Linked DNA regions of Homo sapiens: regions 2, 3 and 4 are each linked to region 1. The links come from fine-mapping of genetic effects on gene expression. A gene starts in region 1. Each other region holds a variant in brackets. All regions are shown on one strand. Distances are from middle to middle. Region 1 holds the start of MBOAT1 (membrane bound glycerophospholipid O-acyltransferase 1). Region 2 has its middle 120 kb from the start of MBOAT1. Region 3 has its middle 23 kb from the start of MBOAT1. Region 4 overlaps MBOAT1 (membrane bound glycerophospholipid O-acyltransferase 1).

Region 1 (5,199 bases):
GTGGATCTCCTGGATAATGTCACATTCTGAGCATGGTTCCATAGGGAAGATTCATAAAACTGACCTTGATATCAAGCCTCACTCTACTGCAAATAGAAAACAGGAGAGACAGCGTGTCTGTGGCATCACCCCTACCACCTCATTTTGAATGGTAAATGTAATGTCTCGTCTACAAAAATGACAAGGTTGTATCAGGTGTGTGGGCTGGCCTCTTGATAAAGAGAAAAATACTATGTTTTAGAGGAGGCAATGCATAATGAATAAAGAGCCCAGGCTCTGGAATCAGACAGACACATTTTACTTAACCTCCCTAAATACAACCAAGTCACTTAAGCTCCCTTAACCCCAGGTTTCACATCTATAAAATAGATTCTTATAACTACCACAGGATTATTAGCACTGGTAAATGAAACAGCTTTTGTAAAGTGATTTCTAACATATGATAATAATTATTGTGAACCTACAGTTGACAGAGGATGGAAATAGAGATACTGATGAAGGAAAAGAGCAATGTGTCCATGGTGCCGCTGTTATACATCTTGGACTCATATAAACAACTTCTTCAAAGTGTGTTTCATTCATCTGTAGTGTAACAGAGCTACTCTCTTGGTTCTGAGTTATCCAACAGTAGTATTTTTTTTTGCATTAATTGTACTACAGTATCAAGAGAAAAGAACTATTAAGTTCTGTGACATTTTGTTTATAAGCTCTAACCATAGTTACTACATTTTTATTTTTATTTTTTTTTTTGATGGAGTCTTGCTCTGTTAGCCAGACTGGAGTCCAGTGGCGTGATCTCTGCTCACTGAAACCTCCGTCCCCTGGGTTCAGGCGATTCTCCTGCCTCAGCTTCCCAAGTAGCTGGGATTACAGGTGCCTGCCACCACACCTGGCTAATTTTTGTTTTTTGGTAGAGATGGGGTTTCACCATGTTGGCCAGGCTGGTCTCGAACTCCTGACCTCAGGTGATCTGCCCGCCTCGGCCTCCCAAAATGCTGGGATTACAGGCATAAGCCACCGCACCCGGCCATTTTTAAAAGAAAAATTTAGACTAGGTTATGAACTGTGTTTTGTTAGGGAGAAAAAAACCTGTGTAAGGCTAATACATGTATATATTTTACATATACATATATACATATGTATATATCAAACCTGTGTTATATATATATATAAAAACTGTGTAATATATGTATATATAAACCTGTGTAAGGCTAATATATGTACATATAAAACTTTACATATATAAATATATTTATATATGATTATATAAATTAATATATTTATAATAAATATATATACACACGCACACACACACACATATATATATATGGCCTATGTGAGGACTATTCTTTGAAGTCTAAAAGGCATAGCTTTGTGAAAATTATAAAGGGTCTGAGGCACTTGCTCCAGAAATACTTCCCAAACTGACCTACTTCTGTTTTCCAGCAACTCATATCTGAGTGTTGATTTTTTTTTCCTTTTAAACAAAGCTCCGTCTGCTCTCATATACCTCACTTCAGCTGTCATCTAGCTCCAGATAAGATGAATGTTGCTCCAATGCTGGTCATTTTCCAGGACTCTATGATATTAAATGAACCTATCTAGCCTAGTGATCCTCAAGTATATGCCTGTGTGCGTGTGTGCATGTGTCTGTCTGTCTGTAGTGTGGGTTTGCTTGTGAGTGGTAGAGATTATCATCTGGTGGTGACATCTCCATTCGGTTAGCTTGTGGGAGTGGTGGTACAGACTTTTTTTTTTCCTCCTCCACAGGGGACATAGGTTGAGAAACTCTGGCCTGGCAATTTAATGCTCAGTGCAGTTTGATGGTGATAAAACTCCTGAAGAAGGCAAGAGTGAGGCCTGAGTCTTGGAGAGTAAGTTGTTGCCAGTGCCTGACAGGCCTTCGGTTTAATTTGAAGCTGGAGGCCACATTGATAAAGTCGGCCCCGAAAGTCATTGCCTGTCTGATCGAATGCCGGTTTACCCAGCGGAGGCTGGGGGCCACGTGAGCTCACTTTCTTTGGTTTTCTACCCAGCAGCCCAGAATATTACCTTCCTGAAACCCTTTTTCATCAGCTAGCGATTCCTGAAAAGGATCTTCAAGATTTTTATGTTTCTCAGAACCTAGCAATAACTTGGAAAAGTTTTCCAAGTAACATTGATGTGTGGGTGTTCGGGGGCAGACAAGTTAAGGAGCAAGGCACCCTTTTTGAGGACCCGTGGCATGCAAATGACTTATCAGAATGCACATAGTATGACAGTAAACACCGTTTCTTACAGAGGTGAAATAACTCTCACTCCACAGAGACGGAAGTGACCCGAAGCTAGCAGTCCCCTGTATTTGCTTGTGTGACACCGAACATGTCAGATCAGGGTGTAGGAAACTATGCCTAGCGCAGAGGAGGGTAAAGGAAGTAGGGAGTCTGGTGGCTGCGGCGCTCCAGCTTCCAGCCACCGGCAGAGGAACCCTCTACGGCTTGAAAGGGAAACGCAGCCACTCAGCCGCTTCGACTGCGGCGGCGAAACCAAAACAGGGTGGGGCGGGGTGGGTGGTGCTCTCTAGTGGAAGGCGCCCGCTGGGTGAGGTCGTTTTGTCTGGCGGGGGGCTAGGACGGTCAGCCCGGGAGGAGGAAAGGCGCGTCCCGCCTCCAGCTGCAGGGCCAGGCGGCGGCGCCCGCTGGCGTCGCTTTCCCTCTCCCGGTCGGCCTCGGTGCAGGCCAGGCTGGGCGGGCCGGGCGGCGCTTGGGGGCCGGGCTCGGAGTCCCCACTTTTCCTCCCTCCTTCCCTCCTCTCGGGGCCGTCCCGAGCGGCCGGGCCAATGGGCGCGGAGAGGAAGGGAGCGGGAAGCGGGGCGCCTTGGGCCCGGCCCTCCTACGGCGCCCGTGGCTGCAGCGCCAGCGCCAAAGCCAAGTTTGCGCCTCGAGAGTTTGCGCCTCGAGAGTTTGCGCCGGTTCGCATTCCCCGGCCTCCCGTTCGCTCCCCCGCGAACCAGGCGGCCGTGCGCCTCTCGGGGCAACCACCCAAGAGCACCCGGGCGGGAGGACGCCGAGCAGGGGGTGTTGCGGGCTGGGACAGGGGCAGCCACCTCCCGAAGATGCAGGATGGCAGCAGAGCCGCAGCCGTCCAGCCTTTCCTACCGCACCACGGGCTCCACCTACCTGCACCCGCTCAGCGAGCTCCTGGGCATCCCGCTGGACCAGGTAACTGCAGGCCGGGAGCGCAGCGACCCCAGCTCCCCAGCGATCGCGTGCACGGGGCGGGCGAAAGTGTTAGCCACCGTCCCTCCGCCTCCATGGCGTATTTTACAGCCACACACTAGACAGTTGGTTTTTGTGTGTGTGTGTGTGTGTGTGTGTGTGTGTGTGTTTTCCCTTCTTGAGTTGGTGTTAGTGTTTTTCTCCTTGTAAGTGTGAAAAAATATTGGTACAGCCTGCGCGGCAAGTTCTACTGAACTTTTTTTTCTTTAAGTTTGGGATTGCCTCGTTTCCTGTAATCAAGTTCTGAAGTAGTCTGATACATGAAACCAGTGTTTCTTTCATCAGTGTCCTCAAGTCGTTATTGTTTTTAATTTAGATGACCCTACTTAAAAAACAAGCGCGATGAATCTGTAGACGGTAGTCTATAGATTTTGAATGCAGGACCTGGGTTTTAGACTTCTGAGGCGAGGCTTGTTCAGGGGTGACAGTTATTTTGTACCGTGTGTGATGCGGGACACACAAGGACACTTTGGTTTTCCCAGGGTTCGGTTGGCTCATATGCCTGGGGCTGGAGCTTCTGAGTAGGACAGGTTAGGGGGAGGAGAGGGGCCCCAGTGAAGTTATTTGAACTGTCCAGGAATTATCTACAACCATTAAAATTAAAAATGGCAACAACAGTGATTCCTGGCAAGAAACCTTCCTGAAGATGAAGCCCGTCTTACTCATTTCCTTGTCTCTTCAGGTGCTGCAGGCTAGATCTGCGGGATACTTAGTAGTGACCCAATCAGTAAATGTTGATTTAAATAGAATTGGGCAGGGCATGCTGGGGGAGGACCCACTGCGCTCCTGTTTTGTTTCATGCTTTTTTGCCTGGTTTTCTTCCCCTTCCTCTCACCAGTGCTCCTTTTCCTTTCCTTTTAACAAGAGCACACCTGCTGCCCTTTGCGCACACCCCTTCAGCAATGAGAAAGTGAGACCTGGACATTTGCCTTATTCGGGTCCTGTTTACTGAGCCACCCTCATACCTGGCTCACTCTGAGGACCTGACTGAGAACTCCACCTGATGTGACCATTGCGTTCTCATCAGTTGCAGAATACAGAAAGTCAGAAACTTGGGAAGGGTTTCGGTGCCAAAGCATTTGTGCTTTTGTAAATTACTCTTTAGTTTCTGGTGAGGATGAGATAGACCCAGGGACCCAGGCAGAGGCGGACATAATAGCAAATTCTTTAGTTCTGAAATTAAATAAAACTCATAGCTGAATTTCCTTAAGGGGAGTTTGTTTTGTACTTACCTCTCCACTCCCTATCAGAAGGTATTTTAATTGCATTTTCTCTTCTAAGCTCTTCTACACAGCTAGAAAGACTCCAGGAAGGCTTTTTGTATGGCTAAAGGACCATGGCAAGTTATGGCTGGGAGGTGCTAGAATAATGTTTTTAATGTCTTTCAATTGCATCCCCTACTTTCCTATAAAGGTAATTCTGGTTTTAATTCATAAAAAGGAACAAAAGAGCCTTAGGAATGTTTAAAACTGGGAGGGAGGGAGGGAGGGAGGGAGGGAGAGACTTCTGGGATAAACCGAAGGAGAAATGTTTGCCATGGCCAGGAGCACCTGAGATCTCTTAGCTCTTAGGTCAGTCTGACCACCCTCCAGCAGGAGTGAGTGTGGATGACCCTTGGTGGAAGAAGCACTTAAAAGGCAGTGCCCCAGGTAGCTTATTTTAGGCCCAAGGAAAATCCCCAAACCATAAATAAGGTCGTTTGAGGCTACGTTGTGGCTTGCGAGTTTGGAAGCTTTGTGTGTTTTTTCCCTTTCACATTTTTAAGGCTTTTTAAAGGCTTAGATGTCAGACTGACCTGGGTGCAATTCCAGTTCTGCCAGCAAACTTCCCTTTGTGACTGCCAGCTGGTACTCTACCCTCTTGGAGACTCAGCATCCTCATGTAAAATGGGAGATGACAATAAGACCTACCTTTTGAGGTTGAGAAATTTTATATGATGTGA
Region 2 (5,199 bases), 120 kb after region 1:
TGGTGAACGTTCTTTTGTATTTCTCTGGTGACAGGGTGGACATCATGCAGTGGCATTGCAGGATCTTAGTGTAAAGAAATGCACTCTCAGCTTGCTCGGGTGCTCTTGTTCTCCAGCTGGTTGTATGCGTTTTTTCTTTCCCCAAAATGTGTAACAGTTTTTCTTTGTCCACATTCTCATCAGTACTTGGTATTAGCAGACTCTTATGTTTTGCCAATTGGATCAGTGAGAAAAAATGTATAGAGAAATGTAATTCTCAGGCCAGGTGCGGTGGCTCATTCCTGTACTCCCAGCGCTTTGGAAGGCTGAGGTGGGTGGATAATGAGGTCAGGAGTTCAAGACCAGCCTGACCAACATGATGAAACCACGTCTCTACTAAAAAATACAAAAATTAGCCGGGCATGGTGTTGCACGCCTATAATCCCAGCTACTCAGCAGGCTGAGGCAGGAGAATTACTTGAACCTGGGAGTCGGAGGTTGCAGTGAGCCGAGTTTGTGCCATTGCACTCCAGCCTGGGTGACAGAGTGGGACTTGTCTCAAAAAAAAGTAATTCTCCCTGCTAGGCCTACCTTCAGCTCTCTGTTTTCATCATCTGGATGCAGCCAGTGTTATCTTCTTATGTGGCCTTTCAGAGAAATTCTGTGCCCTGCATCGAGCTTTTCAAGTTGTTGCAAATGTTTTACATCATAAGCATTTCTCCATATTATTGCAGAAACTTCCTAAAAGTTGTTTTTGATGGCTGCATAATAGTGTGTAAATAAATGTGCTATAATTTTGAAAAGCAGTCCCCTAATGGTTGGGCATTTGGTTTCTGCTGCTTTATTTAAAAAATATATTCCTTTTAGAAAAATTTGAAAATACAGAAAAGGAATAAGGCATCTATAATCCCAGCCCCTGTTGGCATTTTATTTCTAGTTTTTGTGTTGAAGGTTTGTTTTGTTTTGTTGTTTTATATTTCTGGTTGTTCTTTGGTATCGGCATTTATCTGTGGAAAAGTCTAATGCTTCCTATAGAGTTTGGAATTTTAATTTTCCATTTAACTTTACAGGATGAGAATGTCCACATGCCATGAAATCTCCCGTCTCTTTCTCTCCTGCTCTAATGAGCATAGCAAGGAATGAAATCCAGTGAAGTTGTAATGGGGGTTGACTTGAATGCGGTTAGGTAATTTATTTAATTTTAAGTGGAAAATCACTTGCAAACCTTAACTCTTTAAACTATTGCTAGTAAGAAATGACTTTTACATATTGTATAGTCCATCACAATGTGGAGATTGAGGCCTCCTTCTCTGAACCGTTTAACCCTTTGCCTGGCGAGTGACTGTTTGTTTAGCCTCTCAGTAAATGGGATGTATTTGTTCTTCCTAAGAAGTTAAGGTGGCGATTGCTGAGCATTCTAAGCATTCAGAGTGTGAATGAATGAATGAACAAATAAATGAATGCTCGACTTCCTAATTCAACATGGAAATCACCAGAAATTCTTGATTAATTCTTCCCAGCTTTAGAGCATTCAGCCTCAGGCTTCATTTAAAGTCTACATTTTTTGCGGTATCTCTTGAGGTAGATTTAAGAGAAAACAAGGAAGTGGTCCCAAAACGTATGCAAAATAACTAAGCCTTTCTCAATGATGAACAAGAAATTCCCTCTGTCCAAAGGATCTAAAATTCTTGACTTGGAATGGGATTTTTCTGAAGTGGTGTGAAATATGGACCTTTAAGGCAAAACAGCTTTTTTGGCCTATAAAGTTGAATGATCCCCAAACCCACCAAGCAGCTTCTTTTTATGAATGAGCTTCCTTCCTTCTCAGCCCCATCAAACTTGAATGGCTAATTGATGAAGATTATTTATCAACAATTTCAATAAGAAATGTTAGGAAGGGGAATCTAATAGAGAATGCCAATAAAATACATCAAACTCTAAAACTTTCTAGGACTGTTAAAAATCAATCTACAAGCATCAGTTGATCTCATGAATAAAATATTTCCATCAAAATAAATTTGAAGTTTATTTTATCAATGTTAAATATAGCTGAAGTTGAAATATCAAGCTTGGTTAACATTATTTTGGTGTATAAAAACTTTTAAGAACTTGAAATGATGATTTGCAAACTGGAGTCTCATGATACTTAAAAAAAAATACCAATAAGCCCAGGACAGCCCTGAACTGAATAATTAAATGCATTAATAGCTTATGTAAACTCACTGCAGTAATTTGAACCTTATTCCCGGTAAGGAAGGTGTGAGGCAAACATTTCAAGAAGAAAGCACTATTTAAAACCCCAGTGTGCTGCCTTTTGGATGTTGCTGAATCACTGTTTTTTTGTGAATCTGAAGCAATGAGAGAGGTAGAATTACAAGAAAGTGCTGAGAGAAAGCTTTGCAAACAGAGCAGGGTAACAGAGTAGTCAAAGTGTCAATCCTGCCTTTGTTTTTGCTGAGAAGTCCCTGGAAACAGGTGAGTGATTGACTTCTTGATTAATGCTTCCCAGCTTAAGAGCATTCAGCCTCAGCCTTCATTTAAAGTCTACGTTTTGCAGTATCTCTTGAGGTAGATAGACTTAAGAGAAAACAAGGAAGCAGTCCCAAAACACATGCAAAATAACTAAGCCTTTCTCAATGAGGAACAAGAAATTCCCTCTGTCCAAAGGATCTAAAATTCTTGACTTAGAATGTGATTTTTCTGAAGTGGTGTGAAGTAGTGACATCTTGTGGCCATGTGAGGTAATTTCTGATGATTTCCATGTTGAATTAGGAAGTCAAGCATTCATTTGTTCATTCATTCATTTGTTCATTCACACTCTGAATGCTTAGAATGCTTAGCAATTGCCACTTTAACCTCTGGTTTTTTTTTGTTTGTTTGTTTTGGAGATGGAGTCTTGCTCTGTCGCCCAGGCTGGAGTGCAGTGGTATGATCTCGGCTCACTGCAACCTCCGCTTCCTGGGTTCAAGCGATTCTCCTGCCTCAGCCTCCTGAGTAGCTGGGACTACAGGTGTGTGCCACCATGCCAGGCTAATTTTTGTATTTTTTAGTAGAGACAGGGTTTCACTGTATTGGCC[G/A]GGCTGGTCTCGAACTCCTGACCTCGTGATCAGCCCGCCTCAGCCTCCCAAAGTGCTGGGATTACAGGCGTGAGTCACTGTCTGGTGTTTCTTTTGAACAGTAAATGATAGTCTTTCGGAGTAAAGGTCAGATTTTAATGACCCTATTGCTATAGGGTCAAATAATGAATTGTTTCCCTGCCCTGTCCTCTCTCCACTGTAGGAAAAAAGCACACAGGAGGGTGTGTAAACTCCAAGGAGCAGAGATGCTGAAGGCAAAATAGCTTCATTTAAGGCAAATTTCTGCCTCTACATGCTGTGTGACCATAAAAAAAGTGAGCAACCGGCTCTGAATACTTTTCTTCTTAGGAGGAATGCTAGCAATTATAATTACTCTTCAGAATTGTGGGGATTAAATGAGTTAAACCATAATATGAGTTATGAAGCTGACAGAATTCTCAAATGATGATATAGTGGAAATAGGTCATTGTGATATGGGGTCATATAAGTTCTTTGGAGATCAAGTTTCTTGTGTGTAAAAGGTGGGTATTAAATAAGCTGACCAGCATGGTTGCTTCTGCTTCTAACATTCCATAATTTGATGTTTTTCTTCACACTCTTCTGAACCTCTTTATTTCCAGTAGTGAGCTTCTCAACACTTATTTTTTGGCCTATAACTTTGTAGTATTTTGTTTCCTAGGTAATAAGTTCTGAATGACTTAAAGGAAAATACAGGTGTTTTATATGTTATCTTCCACCACTGACATTTCAGTTTTATGGTTGGAGCAGTTAGGCAAGTTTTTTTTTGCGGGCGGGGAGGTAGGGGAGCGGAAGGATGGAGTCTCACTCTGTCGCCCAGGCTAGAGTGCCAGTGATGTGATCTCAGCTCACTGCAACCTCCACCTCCTGGGTTCAAGCAGTTCTCCTGCCTCAGCCTCCGAAGTAGCTGGGATTACAGGCGTGCGCCACCACAACCAGCTAATTTTTGTATTTTTTGTAGAGACAGGGTTTTGCCATGTTGGCCAGGGTAGTCTCGAACTCCTGACCTCAGGTGATCTGCCCACCTCAGTCTCCCAAAGTGCAGGGATTACAGGCCTGAGCCACTGCGTCCAGCCATTTAGGCAAGTTTCTGAATTTAGAAAGAAGCACAAACATTCTGGCAAATATTGAAGTCTTCACTCTGTGCCTAGCAGACACAATAAATAACATGCCTTGTTCACACACGGAAGTGTGAAGTAGGCATAGGTTCTCTTCTGGCCCATGGTTACTAGGCCAAGCAATGCAGTGAATTAATCTTTCTAGTTCTTCCTTCCCAGCTCACTTGTTTCTCAACAAAACCTGGGACTTGGATAAAATTCACAGATTGAGTTTATGTCTTACCATCGTGGGGGAAAATATTTCGAAACAACCTATCTTTTAGGCAAGTCTATTCTTTCCTTCCTCCCTTCATTTTTTCTCTTTCTTGTGATTAGTTTTCTAAACACTGCAAGACTAGTTCCAGAACCTCATGAAAAGAGGTGACACTCTATTTCATCCCACGTTTTGTTTGTAATTCAGTTTATAAAGTGCTTTCTCTTACATTATTTCCTTTGTTTCCCAAACCAACAATCTAAAGTTAGTGGAACCAGATGTTACTATCCGTTTTAAAATTAGGAACCTGAGGCCTGAATAACTTGAGTGAGTTTCCCATGGACACACCCACAGTAAGTGATGGCAACAGAATCGAAACCCTGGGCTTTCCCCTAGGACTTAGGTCAGGCGTCGCCAAACTGCTCAAGTTCATTTTAAGAATTATATTGGCAGGGCACGGTGCCTCACACCTTTAGTAACAGCACTTTGGGAGACCGAGGCAGACGGATCACTTGGGGCCAGGAGACCAGCCTGGCCAACATGGTGAAACCCCATCTCTACAAAAAATACAAAAATTAGCCAGGTATGGTGGCACATACCTGTAATCCCAGCTACTCGGGAGCCTGAGGCAGGAGAATCACTTGAACCTGGGAGATGGAGGTTGCAGTGAGCCAAGATCATGCCACTGCACTCCAGCCTGCATGACACAGCGAGACTCCATCTCAAAATAAATAAATAAATAAATAAATAATTATGCCAAAAATTCTTCTTGTGCTACTTGAATAACTTATAACTTGTATTTAAAATTTGTTTG
Region 3 (5,199 bases), 23 kb before region 1:
ATTAGAGTTGCCGTGGTCTGGGTTGTAATACAACCCCATAACTCCTATTGTTAGTTTAGCAAGGGTGTGGTTTTTGTTGTAGCTGTAGGAATTTAGAAATTTGCCATGGCCGCTGGGCCCCGAACCCTCAACCCATAGGTAACTTTTGTTTGCTTAAGCTTAGGGTCTGTCTTAGTTGATATTTTGGTCTCTCAGATCACATATGTATCTAAACCTCCATCACACCATGCTGTCTTGATTACCATAACTATATAAGCTTTAACAGTAGTTGGAGTGACTCTTTCTACTTTATTCTTTTTCAAAAACTATCTTAGCTATTCTAGGTTCTTTCTGTTTCCATATACCTTTTAGAATAAACTTGCCTATATCTTGCTGGGGATCATCCCAGGAGATTTTTATTTTCCTGGTCTGGACTACAGCCCTGGCATCAGTATTTTTTAAAAGCTCCCTAGGTGATTCGGACGAATAGCCAAGGGTGTGAACTTTGGTTTATGGCAAGACACACCTAAAGAAAAATTTCTCTTGGAGAGCAAATTACTCAGGGGTTGAAAGTTTAAAGAATAGGTGGGATCTTTTAAGAACATGAAATTTAAAGAAGTGAAAGGAGGAGAGAGAAATAGCAATTTATCTCCAGCCTTGTAAAGCAGTCTCCATTAAATGCCCATACCCTCCATTCACACATGTAGCTCAACTAGTTTTGATGAAACATTCAAAAAATGAAAAGAATTGGTCTCTAGCCACAGAATTCTTACTTAGCTTGAACACACAAAAGACTTAGGTGTAGCCTTGGCCACACCCTTTAGAGGAAAAATAGTCTAGATAGGTGTGGTGCATGTATTCCTCCATGCAGAGGGTGACAAAAAAACAGTATTGAGTGTTTAAAGGTTATTTAAATAAAGATGGTTCACTCAGCAAGAGAGTTTGAACCCTGAACCACAACCAGAAGCCCATCTGGAATAAGATCAATAATGGCAGACATAGTTAGATATTTGTTGTTGCTTTTTTTATCTGAAAAAAATTTTAGCTGTACCCAGTGTGCATCCATGTGGTTACTTTTCTCATAATTTGCCTAAAATTATAACAGCCATCAGTGAATAGGCAAATACATGCTTGAGGGAACATGCTCCCTTTAAACGCTGTTGATAGTTCTTCCCACTGCAATGAATACATATTCTTACCATAGCTATAGACGATATGATAATTCAATTAATATTATTTAAGGGAGCAAAATACAGCCCTGTCCCTATCTTCTCAGTAAGCTGTTGCTTACTAAATATTCAGTGGCACAAAATTTTGAGTCTGAAAGCAGACAGTTTAGGGAATCTAGAATGCTTGTTAGCAACCACATTCGCAGTTCTCAAGGCTGCTGTCTGCGGTGGTCACAGTACCAGGAAACAGAAATCTTTTTTTTCTCACATTTTCTTCCTCTTGCCCTAGTTCCTTCATCTTCACCTGATGATGAGGTGTTAATTTATTTTTAATGATCTCTCTGGCAGTGAAGAAAATGTGCCACCTTGGCTCTCAACTTTTTTTTTTTTTTTAGGATCTTGTTTAAGATGAAGATTCCTGGTCCCCAACTCTAGACATTCTGATTGGGAAGGTCTGACATGAAGACCACCCCCACCACCTTCCAAGTCTGCATTTTTAACAAGTACCTCAATATGATTCTGATCCTGGCAGTGTCTAAACCTGCTTTGATTCTGCAGTAGCCGAGCACCACTGTGATAAAGATGCTTTTAAAATACTCCTGACTTGGGGATGCAAAATGTCCACCCAGGGCTGGAAAGGCCTTGGGGAGAGGCTCTCCTAGTTGACTGTTCTCTCTTTTTTTTTTTTTTTTTTCCTTTTTTTTTTTTTTGAGATGGAGTCTTGCTCTGTCGCCCAGGCTGGAGTGCAATGGTGTGGTCTCAGCTTACTGCAACCTCCGCCTCCTGGGTTCAAGCGATTCTTTCACCTCAGCCTCCTGAGTAGGTGGGATTACAGGCGCGTGCCACCATGCCCAGCTAATTTTTGTATTTTTAGTAGACACAGGGTTTCACCATGTTGGCCAACAAGGTGAGGTTTGTCTCCAACTCCTCACCTCAGGTGATCCACCTGCCTCGGCCACCCAAAGTGCTGGGATTACAGGTGTGAGCCACCACGCCTGGCCTGTTCTTTTTAGACCCCCATCCCCTTTTTTTTTAGTTTCTTCTACCATGGAATTCTTCTTTACTCTCACCACCACCACCCAAAGTGCTCACCTTGCGGTTCTCATAACATCATTAAGAATTTCCACGATTGCTTTAGTCTTTATGGAAGGCCCCTTTTCTAAACTTGCTGGCTCACAAAGAATGAAGCAGAAGCGTTTTGAATTTTGAGGGCATTCTTCTTGCCAGAAACTTCATCGAGAGGGTTCCAGGCTCTGGCCTGACCATGAGGCGTTGGTACTAAGAAAGGGTTCTTCTGACTTCTCTGTGGCCACCTCTTTTGCCCTCCAAAGTGCCCCTCGGCCTCTCTCACAGGACCTTACTGCCACTTTCTCCTCAACACCGGCCCCGTCCCCCCCCCCACCCCCCACTGCCTCTGGGACATCATTTTCTTTCTTCAACGCAACCCCCAAATCAGTTAGTTCTACACCCTATCTGTATCCACACAGCAAGTTATCTTATGACCACAGCTTGATAGAACTAAAGATGTGCATTAGGTTTGCATAGCGAGGGAATTTGTAAACTGAGTACAGCTGTGGTTTCCATCACAGGCCTTTTCACTGACAGACCTGAACTGAGCACC[G/A]CACTGTACTCAGGTTGGCCTCACCACCCTAACCTCTCTGGAAGCTCAAAAGCAGGGACCATGACTTTTACTTTTAGAATTGGAAAAGACATTAAGAGACCTTGTGAGAAGGGAGTATGACAAACAAAAAAACATAGGCTTTAAAGTTCGTGGAGGTGGAATAACAGACCCCAAGGATGTCCGTGTCCTCATTCCCAGAACCCGTTAATATGTTAGGTTCCTGGGCAGGGGGAATTTAACGTTGCAGCTGGGATGTTGGTTGTTAATCAGCTGTTCTGAGAGTAGGGATATTATCCAGGTGGGCCTAATATAAGCATGAGGGGCTCTGAAAGAGAGGCAGAAGAGTCAATGTCAAAGCGTTGAATATGAGAAAGACTCAGCCAACCACTGCTGGCTTTGAAGATGGAAGGGGGCTGAGAGTCCTTGATTGCGGGCAGCTTGTAGAAGTTGAAAAGGTAAGAAAATAGATCCTCCTCTAGACCCTCCAGAAAAGAATGTAGCCCAGCTGACACCTCAATTTTAAGCCAGCGAAACCCATTTTGGACTTCTGAACCTCAAAATTGTGTGAGGCAGAATTGATGGGTTCTTGGTCTCACTGACTTCAAGAATGAAGTGACAGACCCTCATGCTGTTACAGTTTCTAAAGGCAGTGAGTCCAGATTTTCTTCGGAAATTCAGTTTCTCCCTTCGGGTGGGTTCCTGGTCTCACTGAGCTCAGGAGTGAAACTGCAAACGTTTGTGCTGTTGTAACTTTTAAGCCAGCACATCTGGATTTGCTCATTCCTCCCGATGGGTTTGCGGCTTTGCTAGCCTGGGGACTGAAGTTGCTCTGCAGCCTGCATTTATTCGCTTATCTGGCCCCACCCACATCCTGCTGATGGGTCCATTTTACAGAGAGCCGATTGTTCTGTTTTACAGAGAGCTGATTGGTCCATTTTGACAGTGTGCTGATTGATGCATTTACAATCCCTGAGCTAGACACAAAAGTTCTCCACGTCCCCACTAGATTAGCTAGATATAGAGTGTCCGCTGGTGTATTTACAAACCCTGAGCTAGACATAGAGTGCTGATTGGTGCATTTACAAACCTTGAGCTAGATACAGAGTGCCGATTGGTGCATTCACAATGCCTTAGCTAGACATAAAGATTCCTCAAGTCCCCACCAGATTAGCTAGATACAGAGTGCCGATTGGTGCATCCACAAACCCTGAGCTAGACACAGGGTGCTGATTGGTGTGTTTACAAACCTTGAGCTAGATACAGAGTGCCGATTGGTGTATTCACAATCCCTTAGCTAGACATAAAGATTCTCCAAGTCCCCACCAGATTAGCTGGATACAGAGTGCCGATTGGTGCATCCACAAACCCTGAGCTAGCTAGGCAGGGTGCTGACTGGTGTGTTCACAAACCTTGAGCTACACAGAGTGCTGATTGGTGCACTCACAACCCCTTAGCTAGACACAAAGGTTCTCCAAGTCCCCACTCGACTCAGGAGCCCAGCTGGCCTCACCCAGTGGATTTAGCACTGGGGTGCAGGTGGAGCTGCCTGCCAGTTCCCCGCCGTGCACCCGCACTCCTCAGCCCTTGGGCAGTCGACGGGACCGGGCGCTGTGGAGCAGGGGGTGGCACTCGTCAGGGAGGCTCAGGCCGCAGAAGAGCCCACGGCGGGGGCGGGGAGACTCAGGCATGGCAGGCTGCAGGTCCTGAGCCCTGCCCTGCGGGGAGGCAGCTAAGGCCCGGCGAGAAATCGAGCACAGCAGCTGCTGGTCTAGGTGCTAAGCCCCTCACTGCCCGGGGCTTGCGGGCTGAGGCCGCTCCGAGTGCGTGGCCCGCCGAGCCCACGCCCACCTGGAACTCGCGTTGGCCCTCAAGTGCCGCGCGCAGCCTCGGTTCCCACCCGCACCTCTCTCTCCACACGTCCTTGCAAGCTGAGGGAGCCGGCTCTGGCCTTGGCCAGCCCAGAAAGGGGCTCCTACAGTGCAGCGGCGGGCTGAAGGGCTCCTCAAGCGCAGCCAGAGTGGGCGCCAAGGCCAAGGAGGTGCCGAGAGCGAGCGAGGGTGCGAGGGCTGACAGCACGCTGTCACCTTTCAATAATACATTCGTGGTTTTTTTGTTTGTTTGTTTGTTTTTTGACCAAGACTCACTTTGTCGCCCAGGCTGGAGTACACTGGCATGATCTTGGCTCACTGCAACCTCTGGCTCCCAGGTTCAAGCGACTCTCCTGCCTCAGCCTCCCGAGTAGCTGGGATTACAGGCGCGTGCCACCATGCCCAGCTAATTTTTGTATTTTTAGTAGAGATGGGGTTTCACCATATTGTCCAGGCTGGTCTTGAACACCTGACCTCAAGTGAGCCACCCACCCTGGCCTCCCAAAGTGCTGGGATTACAGGTGTGAGCCACCGCGTCCGAGCCATTTGTGTTGTTTTTAAG
Region 4 (5,000 bases), 87 kb after region 1:
GCTAGACAGAAGCAGGGACAACTGGCATAACTGAGGAAGGTTCCAGGTGGTAGAGGAGATTGACTTCTTCATTCCTGCATTAAGGAATTGGGACTTGGAAGCAGTGGAGCACTATTGAAAGATTCTAATGAATCAGCCCTTTCCTAAGCACAATGGAGGTGTAAATGCTGTAGGGCAGCAGTCTCCAACCTGTTTGGGACCAGTTTAGTGGAAGACAGTTTTTCCACAGACCCAGGGTTGCGGGTGGTGGTGGGGGGATGGTTTCAGGAGGGCCTTACATTTATTGTGCACTTTGTATTGTTATTACATCGTAATATATAATGAAATAATTATACAACTCACCATAATGTAGAATCTGCGGGAGCCCTGAGCTTGTTTTCCTGCAACTAGGTGGTCCCATCTGGGGGTGTTGGGGAACAGTGACAGATCATCAGTCATTAGATTCTTATAAGGAGTGTGCAGCCTACATCCCTGGCATGCACGGTTCACCATAGGGTTTGCACTCCTATGAGAATCTAATGCCGCTGCTGATCTGACATTAGGTGGCGCTCAGGCGGTAATGTAAGTGATGGGGAGAGGCTGTAAATACAGATGAAGCTTTGTTTGCTCACATGCCGCTCACCTGCTGCTGTTGGCCCAGTTCCTAACAGGCCACAGACCAATACCAGTCTGAGCCCCAGGGGTTGGGAATCCCTGCTATAGGGGATAATTCCGGCGACTGGTTAGCAATGACATTTCAGGGAGTCTTTATTCTATCTTGCTAGAACAGGCCTTCCAAAATGCCATTAAAGCACCACACAGAACAGTTCTCTACAGACTTTTTTCCCTCCACTACCTTGGTCTGTTACTCAGGAACTCAGGCCTGGTTGCCAAAGCAGACAACAGGCTGCTACTGCGGTTCTTCTGCGTGGCCTCTTTCAGTGGAAACTGGTTCCACCCATCATTTGTTTTGTATTTATGTTGGCAATCGGGAGGGAGTTTTCCCATTTGGAAGCATCTCGATCCGCTAACATTAGGTCAGGTTCCGCCCTGCTTTATGTTTATTACCTTCGTTTTGTCCTGTAGACAGGAAAGGTTGATGAGATAAGGACATTTCCCAGCCTGAGTTGCACTTGCCCTCGCCCAGCTCTGAGTGCCTACGGCTGTGTCTGGCCAGCAGAGGGCAGCATGGAGCTCTGTGCCTGCTGTGAGCCCCCTGCTTCTTTAACCTTTCCTTTCCACAAGATTTCTCCTCGGCTGACTTTGTAGAAACAAAACAAGGAAAGGTCATGTCATGTATCGAATCTACAGAGATAACATTTGTGTTTGCTTATTTACAGATTCTGAAGAAAAAGCAAAGACTGAAGACTTTTCAATTTATTTACTTTATTTTCACAGAGTGAAACCCTCTTTTTTGGAATACTTAAGTTACCTTCTCAATTTCATGAGTGTCATAGCTGGTCCTTGTAACAATTTCAAGGACTACATAGCCTTCATTGAGGGGAAGCATATACACATGAAGTTGCTGGAGGTGAACTGGAAGCGAAAAGGTTTCCACAGCTTGCCAGAACCTTCTCCCACAGTAAGTTTTTAGTGTCTAGAGAATAGGGTTTTGCTGCCAGGGTTGACTCTCTCTAATAATGGTTCTAATTAAGAAGCCAAACAGTTTACCAGAAAGCTTGGCCAATAACTTTTCTCATTTATTTAAAATACCAGTATAGTTACTTATTTGCAGCAGTTCTATTTTGCAGCAATGGGTGTTTATTTTACTGAGAAGCTCATTGGCTAGGAAAATGAAAGCAGTCAGTTCATCAGTCAATATTTAGTGCATACAAGGTGTCCAGCACTGTGGAGTTAACACGTTTGAATACTATGGGTGTTTTGCCTTTATGAGTTGAAATTCAAGTACAGCCAAAAGATGATA[T/C]GGCATAGAAGGTGAGGGGGAGGGGGACCACGGAACTGGAATTACTGTGTTTTTCTTGTAGAGCTCACTTATTGCAAGGGAAACCAGTTTTACCTTGGCATGCCTAAAGCTTGCTTATGTTGACCTTGAGAGAATTTAAGATGACTTTTTGAAATAATATTTTAAAACTTAACTGAATTTTATCAATCTCTAATTAGTCAATATTAGAATAACTCATTGAACTTTACAAATATGCTCAATTTATTCAGGTCAAATATCCTATATTTAAGGGACATTTGTAATTAACGAAAGGAGTGGTGAAAATTGGAAAAGGAAGGAAATGAGGATAATTCAAGTTAAACATTTTGAAACTGCTAACGCCTTGGCAAAGACTATGAGTTAAGTATTTGAAAACTTAAGGGATTTATTAATTAGGTATGAGTTTTTAGATATTTTTGACATAGTTCAGTTCTCAGCACTTTATGGTTGGTCAAGTATCTCAAGTTCATCTGCTTTACCAAAACGATCTAGGAGTGAAGTCACCATGGTTGTGAGAGACACCAAAGTGACAGCATTTCTAGGCAGTATCTGTCACCTTAGTGTTTTCACGCTTCTCGTGCTTTTATTTATAAGGTAATGTCATCAGAGAGTCTTTCTGCCACTCTCCAAGGAAACACTTGCATTTTTGTGCACAGATAAGGTGAAGTGGTGAGGTTGCGTTTTAGTTCAAGACATACAGCTGGGAAAGGGCTGGGATCCATGAGCTGGTGCCTATCAGTGGTATAGCTGTAATTGTGGCTGAGCGTGCTAAGCACTTAACTGGGATCCAGGCACTGTTCACAGGACCTTGCAAATACTCATTCACTTAAACCCCAAGGTGCCCTCTGAGGAAGGTGCTATTGCTATGCCCATACTACCAATAAAAGTCTTTTTTTTATGAAGTCGGAGACTAGAGTTCTGTTGAATGTTGAAGGACATTCCTTGAAATGTCAGGGGAGCTAGGCAAAATCACTCTGTCCAGAGGAATTTAAAAAGTCAGCACATAATTAACCCCAGAGTAGACTATATCTAAACCACCCTGGAAGGCTTTCTAGAGCTCCCCATTACCTGCCCATGTCCTGGCTGGCCCAGGTATTCAATCACTTGCTCAGAATCCTTCGTACCTGAGCCTCTGTCTTCCCTACTGGTGATTCAAGCCCATTTCCTGGGCTCTGCTGGCCACAGGAATAGAAGGCAAATGTGCAAATGTTTTTTGTTTTTCTTGATGGAAACTTGCCACCCTGTTATCCATTTCTCTTGTGTTTTGGATAATATAAGTACTTACATTTTGTTCGTTGAATATGCTGATGGAAGTTTTCTTCCAGTCTAGATACATTCAACCCCCAAGTGTCAGAGGCATGTTCTGTATCTAAATATAGCACCTAATCTCCATTGTCAGATTTGTCTCATGAGGAAGAATGCCTGTTGTCACTCCTTCTGGGGAATAATGCCAAGCAGCTGTTGGAGCAACGTTGTCCTTAACAGGTCCATTCCAAAGCTGTTTTCTTCATACCTGAGCCTTCTGCACGGTGACACTGATTTTTCCCCATTTTCAGGGAGCTGTGATACACAAGTTGGGCATCACCTTGGTGTCTCTCCTTTTGTTTTTGACGCTAACGAAGACCTTTCCTGTCACCTGCCTTGTGGATGACTGGTTTGTCCATAAAGCAAGCTTTCCGGCTCGACTCTGCTACTTATATGTTGTCATGCAAGCCTCAAAGCCCAAGTATTACTTTGCATGGACATTAGGTAAGTTTGATGGAGTAGCTGTAACTGAATGAGGGAAAAATGCTACTGCTTGAATGGCTTAGCCAGAACGACGTTTTGGATCACTTCATCAAAGAAGCTCAACACGTAATGGGAGGCAGTTGAGTCAGGGTCAGTTTTAACGTACCAACATAGCACTCCTCTCTCCCACCCTCCATAAACTCAGTTCTCCATGATAAGGAGAAAAACACCCTGGCTGTTGTTTAAACCCAATGTTATTAGCAGATGTCAAAACTTGGAAGCTTCTCCTTCTACCAATCAAAGTTGGCCATGTAAAGCAGTGGAAAGTTGAGGGGAAATTCTGGAATGATTGATCTGGCTTTCTTTTTTTTTGACATGGAGTCTCACTCTGTCGCCCAGGCTGGAGCGCAGTGGCACGATCTTGGCTCACTGCAAGCTCCACCTCCTGGGTTAATGCCATTCTCCTGCCTCAGCCTCCCAGTAGCTGGGACTACAGGCGTCCGCCACCACACCCAGCTAATTTTTTTTGTATTTTTAGTAGAGATGGGGTTTCACAGTGTTAGCCAGGATGGTCTCGATCTCCTGACGTCGTGATCTGCCCGCCCTGGCCTCCCAAAGTGCTGGGATTACAGGTGTGAGCCACCACGCCCAGCCTTGATCTGGCTTTTTTGTAGTTTTTCTGGGTTTTATGTAATATAGGATGCACCTTGAATTAATTTGACCAACACACATGCTAATTTAGGTTACACTTCTTTAAGGAACCGTTGTTAGGTTTTTATGTCTTAGAAAGAAGCTGACTTCAAGTGATTTTTTTTTTTTTTTAGGTAGAAAGTTCAACTTCACTTGGTTTTATCACACCTTTTGTTTTTTCCTGTGGGATAACTTGGTCTATATTAAGCTTTTATCTCTTTCCTTTCAAACAATTTTAGACTGCAGTTGCATAAAGCTTTACTAACATGAGCTATAAACCCATCTGTATACTTAGAGACTGGGAAAGGGTGTTGATAAAGTACGGAAGCCCTGTCTATGTCACACTGGAACCCTTTCAGGGATGGGAGTTGTGTGTCTTAGCTGCAAGCGACCTGCGCTTGATGTCAGAGAGCAGTGACTTGGCTTATTAAATAAAATAGAAGATTAAACTTGGTTTCTGAGGGTTCAGCCCACATCTCACGAATGAGGGAATAGCACTTAATTCCTTGAGTTCCTCTTCTCTCTCAGTTCATCCTTCAAGTTTTAAGTTCCAGTTAAAGTTTGCAGGTACCAAATTACTTTTTTTTTAAAAAAAATTATAATTTTTTTGGCTGGGTGTAATGGCTCATGACTATAATCCTAGCACTTTGGGAGGCTAAGG

Evidence for each region. PIP is the estimated chance that this variant, and not a neighbour inherited with it, causes the effect.
Region 2: its variant is fine-mapped to the expression of MBOAT1 in whole blood (TOPMed, PIP above 0.99).
Region 3: its variant is fine-mapped to the expression of MBOAT1 in CD4 T cells (BLUEPRINT, PIP 0.95).
Region 4: its variant is fine-mapped to the expression of MBOAT1 in liver (GTEx, PIP 0.99).

Annotation. Positions count from the first base shown.
Region 1 is chr6:20,210,137-20,215,335 of GRCh38, reverse strand. MBOAT1 (membrane bound glycerophospholipid O-acyltransferase 1) reads left to right here and starts at 2,867. Exons shown (of 13, transcript NM_001080480.3): 1 at 2,867-3,200. The coding sequence starts at 3,102. RefSeq lists an enhancer at 1,839-2,339 and a silencer at 2,522-3,061.
Region 2 is chr6:20,089,725-20,094,923 of GRCh38, reverse strand. No RefSeq gene overlaps it. Among named protein-coding and RNA genes, the nearest start is that of MBOAT1, 120 kb to the left of the region's middle. RefSeq lists an enhancer at 2,228-2,731. The variant G/A (reference allele first, on the strand shown) is at 3,057.
Region 3 is chr6:20,232,698-20,237,896 of GRCh38, reverse strand. No RefSeq gene overlaps it. Among named protein-coding and RNA genes, the nearest start is that of MBOAT1, 23 kb to the right of the region's middle. The variant G/A (reference allele first, on the strand shown) is at 2,770.
Region 4 is chr6:20,123,078-20,128,077 of GRCh38, reverse strand. It overlaps MBOAT1 (membrane bound glycerophospholipid O-acyltransferase 1), which reads left to right. Exons shown (of 13, transcript NM_001080480.3): 7 at 1,378-1,561; 8 at 3,478-3,670. Among named protein-coding and RNA genes, the nearest start is that of MBOAT1, 87 kb to the left of the region's middle. RefSeq lists a silencer at 1,067-1,194. The variant T/C (reference allele first, on the strand shown) is at 1,904.